3 linked regions of the Homo sapiens genome follow. The protein of the gene in region 1 purifies or fractionates together with the protein of each later gene. This does not show direct contact. Each region holds a gene or a part of one and is shown in the gene's direction. Other genes may lie near its edges.

Region 1 (7,901 bases):
AATCCAGTGGAAATGTCCTTCAAAAATAAGAGTGAAATAAAGACATTTTCTATTAAATGATAGCTGAAAAATACTTCTCCAGCAGACTTGCACCTGCACTGCAAGCCAACCAACCAAACCAAAACCAAAACCAAACCCTAAAGAAAAACAAAAAACTTCAGTCTGAAGGGAAGTGACAGCTGGAAACTCAGATCTACAAGAAGGAATTAAGAGCATCAGAATGGTGAATATGTATGTGAATATAAAAGCCTTGCTTTTTAGTTAATTTCCTTAAAAAACAAGTGATCATTTAAAGCAAAAATAATATCATTTTAAGCTGGCAGTTATAATGTACAGAGAAGTAAAATATATAAGAATACTACAAAAGATGGGTGTTTTAGTCTGTTGTCATGCTGCTATAAAGAAATACCCAAGACTGGGTAATTTATAAAGAGAGGAGGTTTAATTGACTCACAGTTCAGCATGGCTGGGGAGACCTCAGGAAACTTACAATCATGGCAGAAGGAGAAGCAACATGTTCTTCTTCACATGGCAGCAGGAGAGAGAAGAAGAGAACAGAGTGAAGGGGGAAACCCCTTATAAAACCTCAGATCTCATAAGACCTTAGTATCATGAGAATAGCAAGGAGAAAACCGCCCCCATGATTCAATTATTTCCCACTGGGCCCTTCCCACCACATGTGGGGATTATGGGAACAATTCAAGATGACATTTGGGTGGGGACACAGCAAAACCATATCAATGGGCAAGAGCAAAGGAATAATAGTGTCATAAGTTTCTGTCTATATGTGAAATGTAAATTGTTAAATATGCAACTAAGACTAAAATGTGAAGTGATACAATATTATTTCCAATTAGGCTGTGATAAATTAAAGATGGGTATTGTAATTACTGTAACAGTCATCAGATTCCTATCTATTTCCACTGCAGCACTTAACTTATTCAGAAGTGGGTTTATGATTAAGTCTATAAAGTGTAAGTGATTCTACATTTGCATGTTTCTTCAAATGCCCTGGCCTGGAATGATACCTAGCAATGTGTTTACATGGTTCATATGCTTGTAAAATTTGAGGGGAAAAAATGGATTCTACACTTGCAGTTTCTTCAAATGCCCTGGCCTGGAATGATACCTAGCAATGTGTTTACATGGTTCATATGCCTGCAAAATTTGAGGGGAAAAAATGGATATTTTAGCAACAGGTGTTTAAACCACTGTTTGTTTCCATTTCTGACTCCCCATCTCTTATTTTTCTCTTGTTGAGTGGCACTGAAATAACAATAGAGAATTTTAGCATCTGGTAAGGGGACACTATCTTAGAAATAAGTCATTTTAACTACAATTTGAAAAGATATTTTGGCATGATTTAAGCAATAAATGCTAAATTACAAAATTAAATAATTTATTAAAGAACTGAGAGCAAATTTAAATTTAAAAATTAATGGAGGCTAGGCGTGGTGGCTCATGCCTGTAATCCCAGCACATTGGAAGGCCAAGGTGGGCAGATCACCTGAGGTCAGGAGTTTGAGACCAGCCTGGCCAACACGGCGAAACCCCGTCTCTACTAAAAATACAAAATTTGCCAGGCGTGGTGGCACATGCCTGTAATCCCAGATACTCGAGGTATGAGAATCGCTTGAACCTGGGAGGCAGAAGTTGCAGTGAGCTGAGATCGAGCCACTGCACTCCATCCTGGGAAATAGAGCATGACTCCTTCCCCACTCCCCTGCCAAAAAAAATTAATGGAATGTGAGAAACAAAAGAAATAAAGATAATAAAATCAATGGAAATTATTCTGACATCAGGAAGCAAATTATAACAAAAGAAACAATGTCAAATTATATAAAATCAGCAACTCATTAAGAAAAAAAGCTAAACTTTGAATACAGTAAAAAAATATGCTCTTGGATTAATTCTCTAGTGAAGAAAAGTGAATCACTGAACACATTGAAAAGAGATTTAAATTTCTTGCACATTTTACATAAAATACTGATATTGACAAAGACATCATAATATGCCATTGACAATGAGGACATCTAAGACCAACTAGTTAATGTGTCATCAACACAGAGATTCTCAGATTAGTCCCCACATAAAAAAATTTGAATGTCCTGAAATCTTGTAGCTCATAATTGAAAGAAACTTGATAGAAGTTTACTCAAATGTCAACAATTTTAAAAAGCTTTTGATCAACCATGCTAGAGGAATGGCTACATTAACTTTTTATTCTTTCTAGAAAAATTTAAATTATGAAATTAACATACAAAGAAGCAGTCCAAGAACATAAAGCCAACAAATTAGGGGAGAGTTACTATAGAGGAGTCAGGCAGTTAAATAATAAAAATATTTTGTTATTTTTCTGATTTTTGTTTGTGATATTTGGAAGACTTTAAAATTTGTAGTATAGCTGGATGTGGTGGCAGCAGCTCACACCTTTAATCCCAGCATTTTGGGAGGCAGAAGCAAGAGGATTGCTTGAGCACAGGAGTTTAAGGTTGCAGTGATCACACCACTCCACCCCAGCTTAGTTGACAGAACGAGACCCTGTTCTGTCTCGTTTTGTAATTGTAATTATCATTACAATTACAAAAAAAATTGTAATGTGATGTAAAGAATGTATTTTCCATTCTATATTTATTTATTTATTTTTCGAGATGGGATCTCACTCTGTCAGCCACGCTGGAGTGCAGTGGCACAATCTCAGCTCACTGAAAACCCCACCTTCCAGGCTCAAGCAATCCTCCCACCTCAGACCCACAGGCATGTGCCACAATGCCTGGCTAATTTTTGTATTTTGGGTAGAGATGGGGTTTCACCACGTTGCCCAGGCTGGTCTTGAACTCCTGAGCTCATGCAATCTGCCTGCCTCAGCCTCCCAATGTGCTAGGATTATAGGCGTGAACCACCACGCCTGGCCTATTTTCCATTCTAAATCTCCATTTTTGTTTTTTTTCTTTTTCCTTCTTTATTTATTTATTTATTTAATTTTGGAGACAGGGTCTCAGTCTGTCACTCAAGCTAGAGTGCAGTGGCACGATCATGGCTACTGCAGCTGGTGATTATCCCTGCTCAGCCTCCCCAGTAGCTGAGACTAATAGCATGAGTAACTGTGCCTGGATAATATTTTTTATTTTTTGCAGAGACAGAGTCTCACTATGTCGCCCAGGCTTGTCTTGAACTCCTGGACTCAAGAGATCCTCCCATCTCGGCCTCTCAAAGTGTTGGGATTACAGGCGTGAGCTATTACACCTGACTTAAGTCTCCATTTTCATATCTATGTTTGTACTTGTAATTTTGTATTCCTTTTCTCAAATAAGGTCTCTTGAATTGTATAAGCTGGGTCTCTTTCTGTCTGTATTCCTTGTTACATTATAAACCCCATGAGGATGAGGACCTTGTGTCCTTCATTATTATTATATCCAGCAAGCCCTTGGCACAAAGATCGCATTCAATGGGAATCTATATAATTAATGAATGAGTTGTAAAAAATCAATTCAACCTCTTAACATGTATTATCTGTCTTCTCTATTTCTATTGCTACTGCCTTGATTCAGGCCCTCACTCTCTCTACCCTGGATTCTTGTAGTAGTCTCCTAGCTGGTCTCCCTGCCTGTAGTCTCATTTCCTTACAGTCCATCCCCACATGGCTGCCAAGATAACATTTCTAGATGTAAATTTGATCAGACTGCTCAAATTCCTTGGTTAGGGATCCAAAAAAAGTAAGAGCTGGTGCCCCTGCCACATATACCACTCTCCAGTCATGCTGATCAGCCCAGTTCTTTGGATGTACCAAAGGATTTCACCCCAGTTCTGCTTTTGTACATTTGATTCCCTCTCCCAGAAATTTATTTCCTTTGCTCCTTTTCCAGTGTACACTGGCAGATTCCTGCTGAGTCTTGTTTTGCCCCATTAGTTTTCCTCTCTCTTCCACGCCACGAATTCAAACTAATACATACATTTATTTCCTACATACGTACTTAGCATGTTCCAGAGGCTATTCTCATCGATTTACAAGCACTTATTTTATTTTACTTCATTTCACATGCACGTCTGTTTTACGCAGTTACTTGTTTACACGCTCTTCTTCTAGACTTTGGGATTCCAGAAGACAGAGGTTTGAGTGTAAAACACAAAATAACAAAACCACAACAAAAACAACTCTGTATTCTCGTCCCCACCATTACCATCTCTCCTTTGTGATGTCAAAGAGACCAGAGGAAGTGGACAGACTCGGGGAAGAATAGGTAAGTATTAGAGACAGAAAAAGTATGAAGTCCCTTCTGTGAGGACTAACAATAGTGATGCCATTTTACAACCTTGATGACTGTGTTCTCAAGAAACAAAGCAAATGTCAACCCCGTCCATAGCTTCAACAGAGCATAACAGCTCTAACCGCAACAGAGCCTAACGGCCCTAACCACATCTGTCCCCAGTTGGAAAGTGTCCAAACAGTTCCAACTAGCCAGCACTTCCCCAACCCCTCCCCAACAGAAACTTTATTATAAAAGCCTCAGCTTGTAAGCGATCAGGATCTCAGCCAGATTCCTAACTGGAACTCTTCGCAGGCTTTTCCTGTAAATAAACCTGTTTGGCCGTGGAATTGCCTCCTGTTACTCGCTCTCTACGTTTATATCTTCCTAACACCTTCCGGCTCTAATGTTTTGGGTCTCGATGACCATCTAACTCCTAAATGCTGGGGGCCGCTCCCCATAGAAATGCCTCGCCGGATTTCTCCGCCTCGCACCCAGTGGGACTGGGATTTTTGGCCCCGGGGTTTGCAATAAGGGAGTCACCAAGCAGCAGCCACCTCTGGAATTCCTAGAAAGGAAAGAGTTGCCTGGCTTCAGCCAGTGGGCTCAGAACGGCTGACGCATTTCCGGCCTTTGCGGTTGATCGGTCATTGGGGTGCTGCAGCCCCGCCACCTGTTCCGTAGCTTGCCGGTGCCCCGAAGGTGAGTCTTGGCCCCTTGTCGCGACCCGCCAGGTTCCCAGAAGATTTCAGGTCTGTGCCTTGGAGTAGGCGGGGAGGGAACGTCTGCGCAGGCGTGACCCCCGCCCCTACACATTCACTGGCCTGAAGCCCCCGTGGAGTAGGTGGAGGTCCCGCCCCTTATCCTGAAGATTAAACAGCCTTTCTTTGTCTGAGATAACGCCCGGAGTTCTTTGTCCTGCCTCCAAGACGATAAAGGAGCGCAGACACAAAGGTGAGGTTAGAGCGAAAGTTTAATAAGCGAAAGGAAAAAGCTCTCTGCCAGCAGAGAAGGGGTCCCGACCGGGAGTACCCATTATGGGGCCCGTTCTGGGGTTTTTATGGACTGGAAAGGAGAGGGAATGCGCTTAGTCTGCGGGCTGTCCTGGCGAACGCTTGACTCAGCTTGGTCCGGGACCAATCAGGAGCTGAAATGATGATTCATAGCTGCTGCTTAGCTTGGCCCAGGACCTATCAGAAGCCGAAGTGAAAGTTTGGCCCCGGACCAATCAGGGGCTGAGGTGATGATTCACAGAAGCTGGGCTTATAGTCCTAATAAAGGAAAGTAGAGCGCCTGCCGGAACCTACCAGAACCCACCGTGTCCATACCCACAAAAGGAGAAGAAACTTTTCCTGGGAACCTGCTGACTATACAAAGGACAAAGGCATTATGTGTCAGGCCTTGTTCCCTTATCTGAGTGAGCTGGAGGTTCTGTGCAAGTTTTTATCCAAATGGGCCCGAGGTTTTTCTATCTATGCAGCCGTGGGCATATCTCTAGGCACAACACCCTGTGCTAGTTCCCTTATCGGTGCCTGCAACCTGATTTTTTCCCCAGGCTTAGTTTTATGTTATGTGGGGATAAGACACTAAATCATGGGCGGGGGCAGGCTCTCCAGGGACCCTTCCCTTGCTATCCACCTAAGGCAAGCTAGGTAGCCCTTTCACAGGGTGGTGGGAGAGACCCCTAGAGAGGTCGGAGCTTTGCGGCGAAACCGAGGTCCAGAGGTAGAGAAGGGTCTCTCCCTGTCAAAAGCCTTATTTCCTATATACACGTAATTTTTATTTAATAAGTCAACATTATGCAATGTTTGTCGCATATGTTTTCTTTAAATATTGTAAAAACCACCAACCTCATAACTTGTCACCTCTAGTTTCTAATGCATCTCTAAAAATTGGGGACATTTCCCTACATAACCACAAGATTATTAGCACACCCAACTAAGTGTAGGCGCTTCACCTAACACCTAGTTCATGTTTAAATCCTTCCACCCCCTGTTGTCCCACAGATGTCTTTTATACCTGTTTGTACCAACTAGGATCCAATCATAGACCACTCACTGCATGTAGTTGAGTCTTAACCTAGGGCAATTTTACTCTTTGCCTCCCTTCCTCCCATCCCATTGCCTTGTTTAAAAGGAGGCTCTTCCAGTCTTCCTGTAGTGCATCCCCATTTCTGGATTTGACTGTTTCCTCATGGTATTTAAGGTCTTCTTCTGTTTTCTTGTCATCGTAATTGGTATCCTTTGGGATTTATTTTACAACACACATGATTTGTGATTTACATGATCTCTTTGTTGCTGTTGTTAATTATGCTGACGTGAATGAAAACATTCTCATGAATGAAAACATTCTCTTTTATGCTCTTTCTGCCATGTTTTTATTTCGGTGAAGGACAGTGGGGACACATCAAATTCTGCATTGTTTCACTCTTTGCTGTCTGACACCTCGTAAACACTTAGTAAATATATGTGAAATGAATTCCTTTGTGGATTACAGGCAATGCATAAAAACTTAATCTTGTATTTAGGATGAGCTCTTCCACTTCCTCCAGGGGTATACCTTGTATACATTTTTTAAATTATGGCTTTTATTTTATTGTATTGTAACTATATCCTCATGAGCTATAAACACCTCTATATTCCAAGCTCTTAGCTCAGCTCCATAAATTGATTGTCCAGTGACTGAACTGCTTTTACAAAGGTTAAGCTCTTTCTCCTTTCACTTGTACAGTAACATCTAAACTAAGTGGAAGTCTTTCTAGATTCAGTGCAATAGTCTTCACCCCCTCCACTTTACCCTTTTTTTTAACTCTTGCCTCTTCTGCTTCTACTCTTGCTTTCTGCTTCCACTTTTGCCTCTACCCTCATTCCCTCAGCTCATTCTCCATCCAGTAGCAGAGCTTCTCGGTACAGAATTCAGCCTTGTCACTCCCTTTCTTAAAGCCTTCAGTGGTTTCTCATTGCATTTATAAAATCCTAACTCCTATGCCCTACATGATCTGACTCCTGCTTGGCTTGCCAGCCTAATATTTTGCCACTCTTCTCCCACATGACTGTAGACACTCCAGCCTCCTTTCCTGTCTTTGATGGCAGCATGCACTTCCTCAGGGCCTTTGGATAGTCCAGAGTGCTCTTCCCCTCCCTCATCCCTATTCTGTATGGCTCACTTCTTTTGCACTTAAGGGCTTGGCTTAAATGTTACCTCACTTCCCACTACCCCATCTAAATAGGCTGTCCATTTATTTGGTAACTCAGTGCCTAGTTTATTATCCTCAGTAATCATCACAACTCATAATTATTTTATTTGCCTCCTTACTTATTTTTGTTGTTGCTTTTATTTTTGGTTTGTCTTCCCCGTTAAAATGTTTGCTCCAGCAAAACAGGGCCTGGTCCCGTCTTTTTCACCATTGTAGCCCTAATGCCCAGCCAAGTACCTGGTATGTTATGAGTGCTCAATGAACATTTATTGACTAAATGAGCAAATAAATAGGTTAGTTACTAGTAATGAGTCTCTCCTTGTCCCTTGCCTCCTGGGCCTTAGTTGCTGATAAAGTCATAAGCTGAGTCAGCAGTCAACTACCTTTTATTTTTCTGTCTCCCTTTCATGAGTGTGGAAGTCCACTGCAGGTCCTGGAATGAAACAGTGAGCCTGGTT
Region 2 (7,025 bases), on another chromosome or scaffold:
GGATTCAAATAAGACAGAGTCCTGCCTTCAGGACACTTCAGTAGAGGGAGTTAAACAAGTAAACAATAAAGTGCAATAATGTGTTATAGGAAGCACTGAGCAATGTGCTTTGATGTGGATTCTTTTGTTTAATCTTCATAATAGCTTTAAGAGCTAGGTACTTTACCTTTATTCCATAGATGAGGGATCTGAGGCGTAGAGAAGTTAAAGTCACACAGCAAAGATGTTGTTAAATTGGGATTTGAACCCTGCCTATGGGACTCCAGGAACTATAATGATAACCACTGTTATTGCCTTCCTGGAATTTCGTACCATTAAAAAAATCAAAATTCGTCACAAAAGGTATATCAAGTATGTATAAAACATTTGTTTTAAGTTTCAAAAACCGATTACTTAAAATAAGCTGCGTTGTAACTGCCTTTGGGGAATTTTTCCGCATAGGCTGAACTGACTGAGCCATCTAAAAATAGGAGGCCAGTGAAGCCTCTACTGTTTCCCTGGTGAATTTCACTCAAGTTTTCATTGCTCTAAGGACTTTGAACTGCATTAATAATCAGGATGGTCACTCTTGAAAATGTCCCTTAACCTATCTGGTATATATGAATGCCTCTAGAACTCTGAGTGCTATATACTAGGGGAAGTTTCATGGGGCCTTGGGAAGCAGAGGAGCACACTGCTGCTAAGTGGTTATCAAGAGCAGTGTTGAGGGAGTTGTGTTGTCTTAATAAAGTTTGTGGTTATTATGTTTGTGGTTGGTTGCCTGTATTTTGAATTCTCATAGCATCTCTACAAGGTATGATTTATTATCATCATTGTATAAAGGGAGAAACCAAGTATCTGAGAGGTTAATTTACTTATTTGTAGTCATGTAGCTAATTAGCGTCAGAGCCAATATTGTCTAGCTCCAAAACCCATCTTCTTTCTGTTTTACTGTGATGGAGGCAGTGGGATATTGGGTTTGAGTCTCAGGTATAGTCCTAGCTGGAACAGTAGATTCAGAAGGCATTGGCATAGAAGGCAGCTGAAACCACTGTAGTGGTTGAGATTGCCCAGGGAGACTGGTAGGTTGAGTGCTGACAAAAGCTGAGGATAGATTTTTGGGTTCCGGAGGACACGGTCCATGTCTCATGCTTTTTTTACAGAGTAAACTTTCAGTGAACATTGGTTATTTGTGATCTTAAGGGTCCTTATTTCTAAACTTAAGTGTTCTTAAGTGTCATTATTTCTAAACTCTGGCTTTGATATTGCTCCATTGATTCAGTTCCATATATTGTATTGCAAGTGCCCATCTCCTGACCTGGAGGTGTTATATTTGTCTTTCCAGATTACCTAAAACCAGATCCATGGATGATCTTCTTTCTGCCTGTGACACAAGCAGCCCCCTGACTCGTACATCCAGTGACCCTAACCTGAATAACCACTGTCAGGAGGTCAGGGTAGGCCTGGAGCCCTGGCACAGCAATCCTGAGGGATCAGAGACAAGCTTTGTGGACTCTGGGGTAGGAGGGCCTCAGCAAACTGTAGGAGAAGTGGGTCTTCCTCCTCCTCTGCCCAGCAGCCAGAAAGACTACTTGAGCAATAAACCTTTCAAGAGTCACAAAAGCTGTTCTCCAAGTTACAAACTGCTTAATACCGCAGTGCCTCGGGAAATGAAGAGCAACACCTCTGATCCTGAGATCAAAGTCCTAGAAGAGACTAAGGGACCAGCTCCAGACCCTTCTGCCCAGGATGAGCTGGGTAGGACTTTAGATGGCATAGGGGAGCCACCTGAACATTGTCCTGAAACAGAAGCTGTCAGTGCACTCTCCAAGGTCATTTCTAACAAGTGTGATGGAGTTTGTAATTTTCCTGAGTCTTCCCAGAACTCTCCTACAGGTACGCCCCAACAGGCCCAGCCAGACTCCATGCTAGGTGTGCCCTCCAAGTGTGTTCTTGATCACAGCCTCAGCACCGTTTGCAACCCACCGAGTGCTGCCTGCCAAACTCCTCTAGACCCAAGCACTGACTTCCTCAACCAAGATCCCTCAGGGTCTGTGGCAAGTATCTCCCACCAGGAACAACTGAGTTCTGTGCCGGATCTGACCCATGGGGAGGAAGACATTGGTAAAAGAGGAAATAATAGGAATGGGCAGTTATTGGAAAATCCTCGCTTTGGGAAAATGCCATTGGAATTGGTCCGGAAGCCAATTTCTCAGAGCCAGATCAGTGAGTTCTCTTTTCTAGGGTCCAACTGGGACAGCTTCCAAGGGATGGTGACTTCATTCCCAAGTGGGGAGGCCACCCCTCGGCGGCTGCTTTCCTATGGCTGTTGTAGCAAGAGGCCAAACAGTAAGCAGATGCGGGCCACAGGGCCCTGCTTTGGGGGCCAGTGGGCTCAGAGAGAAGGTGTGAAGTCACCTGTCTGTTCTAGTCATTCCAATGGACATTGTACTGGCCCAGGAGGAAAGAACCAGATGTGGTTGTCCAGTCATCCAAAGCAAGTCTCTAGCACAAAGCCCGTTCCACTGAACTGCCCTTCTCCAGTGCCTCCTCTGTATTTGGATGATGATGGACTCCCCTTTCCCACGGATGTGATCCAGCATAGGTTACGGCAAATCGAAGCAGGGTACAAACAAGAGGTGGAGCAGCTACGTCGACAGGTGCGTGAGCTTCAGATGAGGCTGGACATCCGTCACTGCTGTGCCCCTCCAGCAGAGCCCCCCATGGACTATGAGGATGATTTTGTAAGTAGTCACCAACTGCCATACACCCATTATTTACTCTGTTCATCCAGCCTTCCCTCCATTCAGCATTTATTCGTTGGGTACTTGCTGTGTGCCACTGAGTTAGGTGCCTGGGCTATAGGATGAAAAACAAGTAAGCAATTAGAATGATGTTTTTAAGTGCTATGATTGAGGAGGCATCAGGTGTTAGAGGGCTGGAGTGGAGTGAAACGTCAAGGAAGACTTTCTTGAGAAGGTAATGCTTGAGCTGAGTGCTGAAGAATGTGTGATACTTAGCCAGGTAGACAGTGAAAACAAAACACCATTTGCAGAAGCGTAGTGGCAATAGATACTCCAATGATATGGCTTAAAAAGATGGGACATGCGAGTATATATGTGTACATGCATGCATACACGCTTACACTGGGGCTATGAGAGACAGTCAAATAGGGTGGTGGGAGGTGACATTGGAGAATTAGGTGGAGATTACAAGGGTCAGGTTGAGTGCCCTTCTTGTTTGGATTTTACCCTTAAGGCAATAAAATTTTAGGCCAGTGCACAATATGATCAGAGTTGTAGTTTAAGAAAATGACTCTTGCAACAATGTACAATTTTTTTTTTTTTTTTTTTTTGAGACGGAGTCTCGCTCTGTCACCCAGGCTGGAGTGCAGTCGTGCAATCTCAGCTCACTGCAACCTCCGCCCTCCCGGGTTCACGCCATTCTCCTGCCTCAGCCTCCTGAGTAGCTGGGACTACAGGCGCCCGCCACCATGCCCAGCTAATTTTTTTTTTTTGTATTTTTAGTAGAGATGGGGTCTCACTGTGTTAGCCAGGATGGTCTCGATCCCCTGACCTCATGATCCGCCCACCTCGGCCTCCCAAAGTGCTGGGATTACAGGCGTGAGCCACTGCGCCCGGCCCAACAGTGTACAATTTTAATGAGGCAGTTGAGACCCAGATTGGGAGGCTGGTAAGGTCATTTTGGAATAATCCAGGTGAGAGATGAAGACTATAGGCTGTGCAGTGTTGGGCAGCCTCAGGTTCTGGCACCATAGTCCTTGGGGAGCTTCTAGGAGCCAGCTTCCTCTCCATGGTATCTTGCCATTTACACAGACACTTTCCTTCCTTCTGTTAAGGTGCTCCCCACTTGCCTGCTTCTCACTTCTCTGGTGCTTTAAACAGGAGTCAGCAAACTTTTTTTTTTTTTGTAAAAGGCCAAATAATAACTATTTTAGGTTTTGTGGGCCATACCGTCTATGTTGCAACTACTCAGCTCTGCTATTGTGCAAAAGCAGCCGTAGCCAGGCACTGTGGCTCACGCCTGTAGTCTTAGGACTTTGTGAGGCCGAGGTAGGTGGATTGCTTTAGCCAAGAAGTTTGAGACCAGCCTAGGCAACATGGTGAAACCCCATCTCTACAAAAATTACAAAAAATTAGCTGGACATGGTGGTGGACGCCTGTGGTCCCAACTACTCAGGAGGCTGAGGTGGGAGGATCTCTTGAGTCCAGGATGTTGAGGCTACAGCGAGCCGTGATCATGCTGCTGCATTCCAGCCTGGGCAAAAGAGCGAGACCTTGTCTCAAAAACAAAACAAAAAGCAGCCATAGACAGTAAGTAAATGAATGAATGCAGCTGTGTTCCAGCAAAACCTGATTTACAAAAACAGGCAGTGGGCTAGTTTGGCCTGTGGGCCATAGCTTGCCAACCCCTGGTTTAGAACATAACAAGAGTCTTTCTATGCTGTGGTGTAGCATATCGGTAAGAGTGTAAATCTGAAGCTACAATACTAGGTTCAAATCCCAGCTTTACTACGTATCAGCTCTTTCTCTGTGGCTTCATTTTCTTATTTGTAAAATGGGGATATTAGTAGTATACATTGTAAGACTGTCATAAGAAATAAGTTCATGTGTGTAATGCACTTAGCACAGTGCCTGACACATGGTAAACAGTAAGCGTTAATGATGATGAAGATAATTTGTTGTCTTTGCCTTTTCATCAGACATGTTTGAAGGAGTCAGATGGCAGTGATACTGAGGATTTTGGCTCTGATCACAGTGAAGACTGCCTTTCAGAAGCAAGCTGGGAACCTGTTGATAAGAAAGAGACTGAGGTATGTTTAGGCACATATGTGGTGGGTACTTACGTGAGCCAGTGAGTCATCATATTTTCCAGAGATGAATGACATGCTGTAGACTGAGCTGTCCCCCAGAGGAGTGTCAGCCTGGTAGGCAAATGGTAGCCAGTTATGAAGATAAGCCTTGTCTCTTTCTGCTGGGGTGCTTTCCTCATTGCAATGTTGCTCTTCCAGTCTGTCAACAAGGACCAGGAATTTTTCTTTGTGCCTTCTATTAGGTGACTCGCTGGGTTCCAGACCATATGGCATCACACTGCTATAACTGTGACTGTGAATTCTGGTTGGCCAAACGAAGACACCATTGCAGGTAAGATGTTTTGTATGATTTAGTATGACAAAAAACAGGGCAGGCCAGGCGCAGTGGCTCACACCTGTAATGCCAACACCTTGGGAGGCCGAGGCAGGCGGATCATGAGGTGAGGAGATTGAGACCATCCTGGCCAACATGGTAAAACCTGTCTCCACTAAAAATACAAAAATTAGCTGGGCGTGGTGGCGCATGCCTGTAATCCCAGCTACTCTGGAGGCTGAGGCAGGAGAATAGCTCGAACCAGGGAGCTGGAGGTTGCAGTGAGCCGAGATTACGCCACTGCACTCCATCCTGGCAACAGAGCAAGACTCTGTCTCAAAAAGGACAAAAAACAAAAACAAAAATAGTGTAATACATATGTATAGAACTAAGTGGAATTAGTTTGGAAGTGGACACCTCTTTATAGAAACTATTTTTGTTTGTCCCCAACTTTTCATTTAGTATCACTCATTCTCAGTATATTGGCATTTCTTAATATTAATTAATTAATTATTTTTTTATTAGCGATGGGCTCTTGCTATGTTGCTCAGGCAAGTCTCAAACTCCTGGCCTCAAGCGATTCTACTGCCTCAGCCTACCAAAGTGCAGGGATTACTGGTGTGAGTCACCCTGCCTGGCCAGTATATTGGCATTTCTGATGAACTCTTCCCTCTTTCTGCTTTGACAGAAATTGTGGGAATGTATTTTGTGCTGGATGCTGCCACCTGAAGCTGCCCATTCCTGATCAGCAACTCTATGACCCAGTTCTCGTCTGTAACTCATGTTACGAACACATTCAAGTCTCTCGTGCCAGGGAACTCATGAGCCAACAGCTGAAGAAACCCATTGCTACAGCTTCCAGTTGAATGCCGGGGAGAAACCTGTCCAATTTTAGCAGGTTTGAAGGGAGGATCTTCTTCAGTTGTAGTTTGGAAGGTTCCTTGGTGTGGCTCATGAAATCACAGAGCTCAGAGATACCATCTTGAGAAATCCTCCTTGGTATCATGAAACTGGAGCAGAGGAATTGCAATTTAGCAGGAGGTCCTCTACTGGTGATACCCTCACCTTGGGGTAATGGTCCTAACCCAGACCCAGGGTCTGGAAGCTTAATGTTGAGTTGGTGACTCCAGCCTCTTTCTCCTGGAGGTCACAAGATGATGATTGCGTAGATGTTGCCTGGTGCAAAGTGCCCCAAACAGCAATAGAAAGGCATATGTATAACCAAACTCCAAGTGATAACCAGACCCATCTCTCCTCCACCTTGACAAAAGCAGATTATAGTATACAAGGTAGGAATTCCTGTCCTATTTGAGATGAACTATATCCTGTACCTCTGTGCTCTGTGTCTGCATGAAGGCTCAGCCTTTAGAGGCACTCCTTCTAGTTGCATTAGTACTGTCTTTCTGTGGAGTTTGGTTTGAAGACTGGCTCAGCAAGTGGAGGTTTCAATGTATTTTTCAGTTGGCTCATCAGCCAGCATTGGTGAATATTCAGTTTAGGGGAACAGTTCTAGGGAGTGAGACATTTTTGGGAGCAGAGGAAAACTCTGCTGATGTTCGGTCCTGGCAAACATTGAGTTATTTTGAGCTGTGAAGGCAGTCGTCTCTGTTACACAGTGGCAGCTCTTGAGTTATGCACTGTGAAGAATGAGAAGGGAAAAGCAAAAATTATCCTTGTGAAATATCTGCTGATTGTGCCCTACTCTTTGCACCTGACTTTTCCTAGTTGTCCTGGTGCTAACACAGGAGCTACACCTTGATCCTCTCCTGGCATGAAAATAAAACAAAGGTTTTCGTTGTTGTTGTTCCATTGCCCATTTCCCCCATGTTGTCTTTCCCTTGGCTGATGCCTCCTCTGGGTCACATTGCTTCTTATCCTGAACACTTGACACCTTGAGGG
Region 3 (7,025 bases), on another chromosome or scaffold:
TCTCTTTGCGATTTTATAAACTCAATGGCTTTTTTAGCATTTGAGTATAAATTAATGATAAATATTATTTGATCATAAAGTCTTAGATTTTATAGAAAATTAGAATAAGGCAAATTCACGTCGAGGAATTCGTGTAGTGATTTGTAGTTACTTGTTGCCTCACTAAGAAGCGATTAGTAAATGTGTCTTGTTATGCAATTATTCTCTTTTTATAGGCCTGGCAAAAAGCACGAAGTGATGGGTGGGAGCGAGCCTTTTGTGAAAAGAATTTTCTTTCACAGGCTACTATGGAAATAATCATAGGCATGAGAACACAGTTGCTTGGTCAACTTAGAGCATCAGGTAAAGTTTTTCCCTCAAAGAGCCTATTTAAGTTACTGAGAGTACCCTGCCCATATTTCATAGTATTTCTTATGTTAACTGATGCCATCTATTATTTTTATGACATTATCATGTTGTGTATCTTATATTCATGCATGATTTGTAGACTTCGATATGTCTTCAACTTTTGCTTGTTGATGAAAAAATGCTATTGCAGGAGGTGTATTTGAGAAATCTAGGGACAGAATCTATATGCTTGTGATACTGTTGGCAATGAACAATTTGTATTGGTTGGCAGAGATCAATTTAGATCTTATAGTTATTTTCTTTTATCACCATTAATGAATACTTATTTAGTTCTGTGAAATAGAAATTTTAAAAAATTGATATGAATGCTGCTCTTCATATTTTTGGAACACAAAAACAGCTAGTAATACTTGAAGTCACCTTTTTTTTTTTTTTTTTTTGAAGAGGATGCTAGTATTGCTATTACCTTTTAGAATTGCCTTTTTGAGTAGCAAAAAAAAATTGATGTGGTAGTCAGAAGAATAGTACCAGAGCCTGGATTCATGGGTTAGCTGAAGTGCCAGAGTAATATAAGGAATGAACCAGAGGACTTAAGAGTTGACTTGAACATAAGGAAATATGAAGGACTTTTGAAACTCAAGCAAAAATTACCATATATTTACTTGACTTCATCTACAGAATTAGTATCTATCATAACCAAAATGTTGTTAATAACAGTCAGAAGAATGGTTTGGGTTTCCAGCTATGAATTTAGTTTGTTTCTGGCAGCAGATTATGAAGAACTTTATTGCAAGAATGTGGATCTAAAAAAATTTAAGCCCCAAGTGATTCTTATACTTAATCTAACCTGAGCAGATCTACACTTCCCTAGAATGTTGGTTCTGTATCTGTTTTAGGGTGGGGAGGGGTGGTTCATATTTTAAACAACTTTCCAGAGGAGATTCTATTAATTATCGTGAAATTTGAATATCACAAAATTTACATGAGTTGTACAAGTTTTTGGAAAAAATACACAAAAGTATCTTTTGCACAATAGAAAAATTGGTGTGGTTTTTTTCCCCTCTAGGTTTTGTTAGAGCACGAGGTGGTGGTGACATTCGGGACGTTAACACAAACTCTGAGAATTGGGCTGTCGTTAAAGCTGCATTGGTGGCAGGCATGTATCCTAATTTAGTCCACGTGGACAGAGAGAATCTAGTGTTGACAGGGCCAAAGGAGAAAAAAGTACGATTTCATCCTGCTTCAGTTCTCAGTCAGCCTCAATATAAAAAGGTAAAAGATTTTGAATGCTGTTGGGTTTTGAGGTGAAACTAATTTAGGTAGTTCACTATCAATGAAAAATGCTCCAAATACCTGCCTGCTTTAAGAAATTAATTAGTTATATATATATATATATATATATCATTAAATATTGGAACAAAACTTATAAATTTTAGAGTTGGAAAAGGTAACATGTTAAGTAATGAGTACTTTTGTACGAACTACATGAGCGATGACTTGTTTTAATTTTTGCTTACGTACTAATATACATCATCTATTTCATTGAGAGACTTTACATTTTAAAAGTATTTCCAATAAACTAGGTGATAAACACAATTAACAATTTTTAAAATTTATTTTCTTAATAGATTCCTCCAGCCAATGGTCAAGCTGCAGCAATTAAGGCACTGCCCACAGATTGGCTTATTTATGATGAAATGACCAGAGCCCATAGAATAGCTAATATTAGATGTTGTTCAGCAGTGACGCCTGTCACTATATTGGTATTCTGTGGACCAGCTAGATTGGCAAGTAATGCTCTTCAGGAACCTTCATCCTTTAGAGGTAAATGTATTAAGGAAATAAAAATCTATTTGAAATGAATTTTTTTTTTTTACCAAATAATGAAATTATTTTACTAAACCAAATAATGAAATTATAAAGATTTATATAGTAGCAGCTCTATTTTGATGTACTAAGACTAATTAGGAAATACTAAGGTATACTACTGTTTTTGAAATTTATTTATAAGGTAACTTGATGTTTATTTGTGCATTTTTTATTAATCTTGCTGTTGGGAAGAAATTTTTCTTTTCCACTTGAATTTAAATGATAGTTTAACGTAAATAAAGTTAATTGTAAAAGAAATAATAGCCACCCATAATCTCATTTTTCTCATGCTAACACTTTTTAATGTTATATTTTTTCTACATGTTTACATATTTTAAATTATTTCACCCAAACTGTTATTTTATATTTTGTTATTTTCATTACAGAGATATCAAAAATATTTTTAGTATTTTATATTAATGACTGCAAAATAGTATATCACATTGAAGTGGCATAATGCATTTTTTTCCTTCAACTTTTATTTTAAGTTCAGGGGTACATGTGCAAGATGTGCAGTTTTGTTGCATAGGTAAAGGTGTGCCATGGTGGTTTGCTGCACAGATCATGACATCATGTATCTATCAAGCCCAGTGTCCATTAGCTATTCTTCCTGATGTTCTCCCTACCCTCTACCACACACCCCCAGTAGGCCCCAGTGTGTGTTGTTCCCCTGTCTGTGTCCATGTGTTCTCATCATTCAGCTCCCACTTATAAGTGAGAACATGCGGTGTTTGGTTTTCCATTCCTGCATTAGTTTGCTGAGGATAATGGCTTCCAACTTCAGCCATGTCCCTGCAAAGGACATGATCTAATTCCTTTTTATGGCTGCATAGTATCCCATGGTGTATATGTACCATATTTTCTTTATCTAGCCTACCATTGATGGGCATTTGGGTTGATTCCATGTCTTTACTATTGTGAATAATGCTGCACTGAACATACAAATGTACTTATCTTTATAATAGAATGATTTATATTCCTTTGGGTATTTACCCAGAAATGGTATTTCTGCCTCCAGGTCTTTGAAGAATCACCATGCTGTCTCCCATGGTGGTTGAATTAATTTACACTAGTGTAATTTAATTACACAGTAGTGTAAAAGTGTTCCTTTTTCTCTACAACCTCACCAGCATGTTGTTTTTTGACTTTTTAATAATAGCAATTCTGATCTCATTGTGGTTTTGAATTGCATTCCAGTAATGATCAGTGACGTTGAGCTTTTTTTCATATGTTTGTTGGCCACATGTACATCTTTTGAAAAGTGTCTGTTCGTGTCCTTTGCCCACTTTTTAATGGGTTGTTTTTTCTTGTAAATTTGCTTAAGTTCCTTGTATACTCTGGATATTAGACCTTTGTCAGATGGATAGATTGCAAAAATTTTCTCCCATTCTGTAGGTTGTCTGTTTCCTCTGATGATAGTTGTTTCTTTTGCTGTGCAGAAACTTTAGTTTAATTAGATCCCATTTGTCAATTTTTGCTTTTGCTGCAATTGCTTTTGGCGTTTTTATCATGAAATCTTTGCCTGTGCCTATGTCCTGAATGGTATTGCCTAGATTTTCTTCGAGGGTTTTTATGGTTTAGAGTTTTACATTTAAGTCTTTAATCCATCTTGAGTTAATTTTTGTCGAAGGTGTTAGGAAGGGGCCCAGTTTCAGTTTTCTGCATATAGCTAACCAGTTCTTTCAGCACCATTTGTTAAATAAGGAGTCCTTTCCTCATTGCTTGTTTTTGTCAGGTTTGTTAAAAATCAGACGGTTGTAAGTGTGTGGTCTTATTTCTGAGTTCTCTATTCTGTTCCATCATTCTATGTGTTTGTTCTTATACCAGTACCATGCTGTCTTGGCTACTGTAGCCCTGTAGTATAGCTTGAAGTCGGGTAGCGTGATGCCTCAGCTTTGTTCTTTTTGCTTAGGATTGTCTTGGCTATATGGTCTCTTTTGGTTCCATAAGAATTTTGAAATCGTTTCTTCTAAGTCTGTGAAGACTGTCAGTATAATGGGAATAGCATTGAATCTGTAAATTTCTCTGGGCAGTATGGCCATTTTCATGATATTGATTGTTCCTATCCATGAGCATGGAACGTTTTTCCATTTGTTTATGTCCTCTCTGATTTCTTTGAGCAGTGATACGTAGTTCTCCTTGAAGAGGTCCTTCACTTCCCTTATTAGCTGTATTCCTAGGTATTTTATTTTACTTTATTTTATTTTATTTCATTTTTTTGAGATGGAGTCTTGCTCTGTCACCCAGGCTGGAGTGCAGTGGCACAATCTCAGCTCACTGTAACCTCCGCCTCCTGGGTTCAAGCAATTCTCCTGCCTGAGACTCCTGAGTAGCTGGGATTACAGGCACGCACCACAATTCCTGGCTAATTTTTGTATTTTTACTAGAGACAGGGTCTCACCATGTTGGGCAGGGTGATCTTGAACTCCAGACCTCAAGGTGATCCATCTGCCTGCCTTGGCCTCCCAAAGTGCTGCAATTACAGGCGTGAGCTATCATGCTTGGCCTTTTCCTATGTATTTTATTTTTGTTGCAATTGTGAATGTGAATTCATTCATGATTTGGCTCTCTGCTTGCCTGTTGTTGGTATATAGGAATGCTAGCAATTTTTGCACATTGATTTTATATCCTGAGACTTTGCTGAAGTTGCTTATCAGCTTAAGAAGCTTTTGGACTGAGATAATGGGTTTTCTAGATGTAGATCATATCAACTACAAACAAAGATAATTTGACTTCCTCTTTTCCTATTTGAATACTCTTTATTTCTTTATTTTGAGATGGAGTCTCACTTTGCCGCCCAGGTTGGAGTGCAGCGGTGTGATCTCAGCTCACTGCAACCTCCGCCTTCTGGGTTCAAGCAATTCTGCTGCCTCAGCCTCCGGAGTAGCTGGGATTACAGACGTCTGCCACCATACTCCACTAATTTTTTTTGTATTTTTAGTAGATTTGGCATTTCACCATGTTGGCCAGGCAGGTCTCAAACTCCTGACTTCAAGTGATCTACCACCTCGGCCTCCCAATGTGCTGGGATTATAGGCATGAGCCACTGCACCCACCCGACGTGAATACTCTTCATTTTTTTCTCTGGCCTGATTTCCTTGGCCTGAACTTCCAATCCTATGTTGAATAAGAGTGATGAGAGAGGACATCCTTGTACTGTGACAGTTTTCAAGGAGAATGCTTCCTGCTTTTGCCCATTCAGTATGATACTGGCTGTGGGTTTGTCATAAATAGCTCTTATTATTTTGAGATATGTTCCTTTACTACCTAGTTTATTGAGTTTTTAACACGAAGACATGTTGAATTTTATTGAAGGCCTTTTCTGCATCTATTGAGATAATCATTTGGTTTTTGTCTTTAGATCTGTTTATGTGATGAATTATGTTTATTGATTTGCATATGTTGAACCAGCCTTGCATCCCAGGGATGAAGCCAACTTGATTGTGGTGGACAAGCATTTAGATGTGCTGCTGTATTTGGTTTGCCCATATTTTATTGAGAATTTTTGCACTGATATTCATCAGGGATATTGGCCTGAAGTTTTCTTTTTTGTTGTATCTCTGTCAGGCTTTGGTATCAGTATGATGCTGGTCTTACAGTATGAGTTATGGAGGAGTCCCTCCTTTTCAGTTGTTTGGAATAGTTTCAAAAGAAAGGGTATCAGCTCTTCTATGTACTTCTGGTAGAATTCAGCTGTAAATCCATCTGGTTGGGCTTTTTTGGTTGGTAGGCTCTTTATTACTGCCTCAATTTCCAAACTTGTTATTGGTCTATTCAGGGATTCAGCTTCTTTCTGGTTCAGTCTCAGGAGTATGTATGTGTCCAGGAATCTACCTCTTTCTTCTAGATTTTCTAGTTTATTTGCATAGAGGTGTTTATAGTATCCTTTGATGGTAGTTTGTATTCCCATGGGGTCAGTGGTGAGATCCCTTGTATCATTTTTATTGTGTCTATTTGATTCTTCTCTCTTTTCTTCTTTATTAATCTAGCTAGCAGTCTGTTTTATTGATTTTTAAAAAGAACCAGCTTTTTGATTTGCTGATTTTTTTGGAGGGTTTTTCCTGTCTCTATCGCCTTCACTTCTGCTCTGATATTAGTTATTTCATGTCTTCTGCTAGCTTGGGTTTGTTTTCTCTTTGTTCTCTAATTTTTTAAATTGAGATGTTAGGTGGTTAACTTGAAATCTTTCTAGCTTTCTGATGTGTTCATTTAGTGCTATGAATTTCCGTCTTAACACTACTTTAGCTGTGTCCCAGAGATTGTGGTACATTGTCTCTTTGTTCTCATTACTTTCAAATAACTTCTTGATTTCTGCCTTAATTTTGTTATTTACCCAAGAGTCATTCAGGAGCAGGTTGTTCAGTTTCCATGTAGTTGTGTGGTATTGAGTGAATGTCTTAGTCTTGAGTTCTAATTTGATTGTGCTGTGGTCTGATAGACTGTTATGATTTTACTTCTTTTACATTTACTGAGGAGTGTTTTACTTCCAGTTATGTGATCAATTTTAGAATAAATGCCATGTGGCGATGAGAAGAATGTATATTCTCTTGTTTTTGGGTAGAGAGTTCTGTAGATATCTATCAGGTCCACTTGATCCAGAGCTGAGTTCAGGTCCTGAATATCTTTGTTAATTTTCTGTCTTGATGATCTGTCTAATGTTGTCTGTGGGGTGTTAAAGTCTCCCACTATTATTGTATGGGAGTCTAAATCTCTTTGTAGGTCTCTAAGAACTTGTTTAATGAATCTGGGTGCTCCTGTATTAGCTTGCATATATATTTAGGATCATGAGTTCTTTTTGTTGAATTGAG

The links.
Region 2: the proteins of ZSCAN31 (region 1) and MTMR4 purify together in Homo sapiens (affinity purification with mass spectrometry; 2 studies listed by BioGRID and IntAct, with this or other methods). This does not show direct contact.
Region 3: the proteins of ZSCAN31 (region 1) and YTHDC2 purify together in Homo sapiens (affinity purification with mass spectrometry; 2 studies listed by BioGRID and IntAct, with this or other methods). This does not show direct contact.

Annotation. Positions count from the first base shown.
Region 1 is NC_000006.12:28,333,130-28,341,030, reverse strand, and holds the start of ZSCAN31 (zinc finger and SCAN domain-containing protein 31), read left to right. Parts: upstream 1-4,882; 5' UTR 4,883-4,949; exon of another isoform or gene 4,950-5,675; intron 5,676-7,901.
Region 2 is NC_000017.11:58,490,630-58,497,654, reverse strand, and holds part of MTMR4 (phosphatidylinositol-3,5-bisphosphate 3-phosphatase MTMR4), read left to right. Parts: intron 1-1,324; coding exon 1,325-2,723; intron 2,724-4,702; coding exon 4,703-4,813; intron 4,814-5,055; coding exon 5,056-5,144; intron 5,145-5,814; coding exon 5,815-5,992; 3' UTR 5,993-7,025. UniProt on the Homo sapiens protein: Lipid phosphatase that specifically dephosphorylates the D-3 position of phosphatidylinositol 3-phosphate and phosphatidylinositol 3,5-bisphosphate, generating phosphatidylinositol and phosphatidylinositol 5-phosphate.
Region 3 is NC_000005.10:113,565,678-113,572,702, forward strand, and holds part of YTHDC2 (3'-5' RNA helicase YTHDC2), read left to right. Parts: intron 1-215; coding exon 216-342; intron 343-1,414; coding exon 1,415-1,620; intron 1,621-1,976; coding exon 1,977-2,172; intron 2,173-7,025. UniProt on the Homo sapiens protein: 3'-5' RNA helicase that plays a key role in the male and female germline by promoting transition from mitotic to meiotic divisions in stem cells.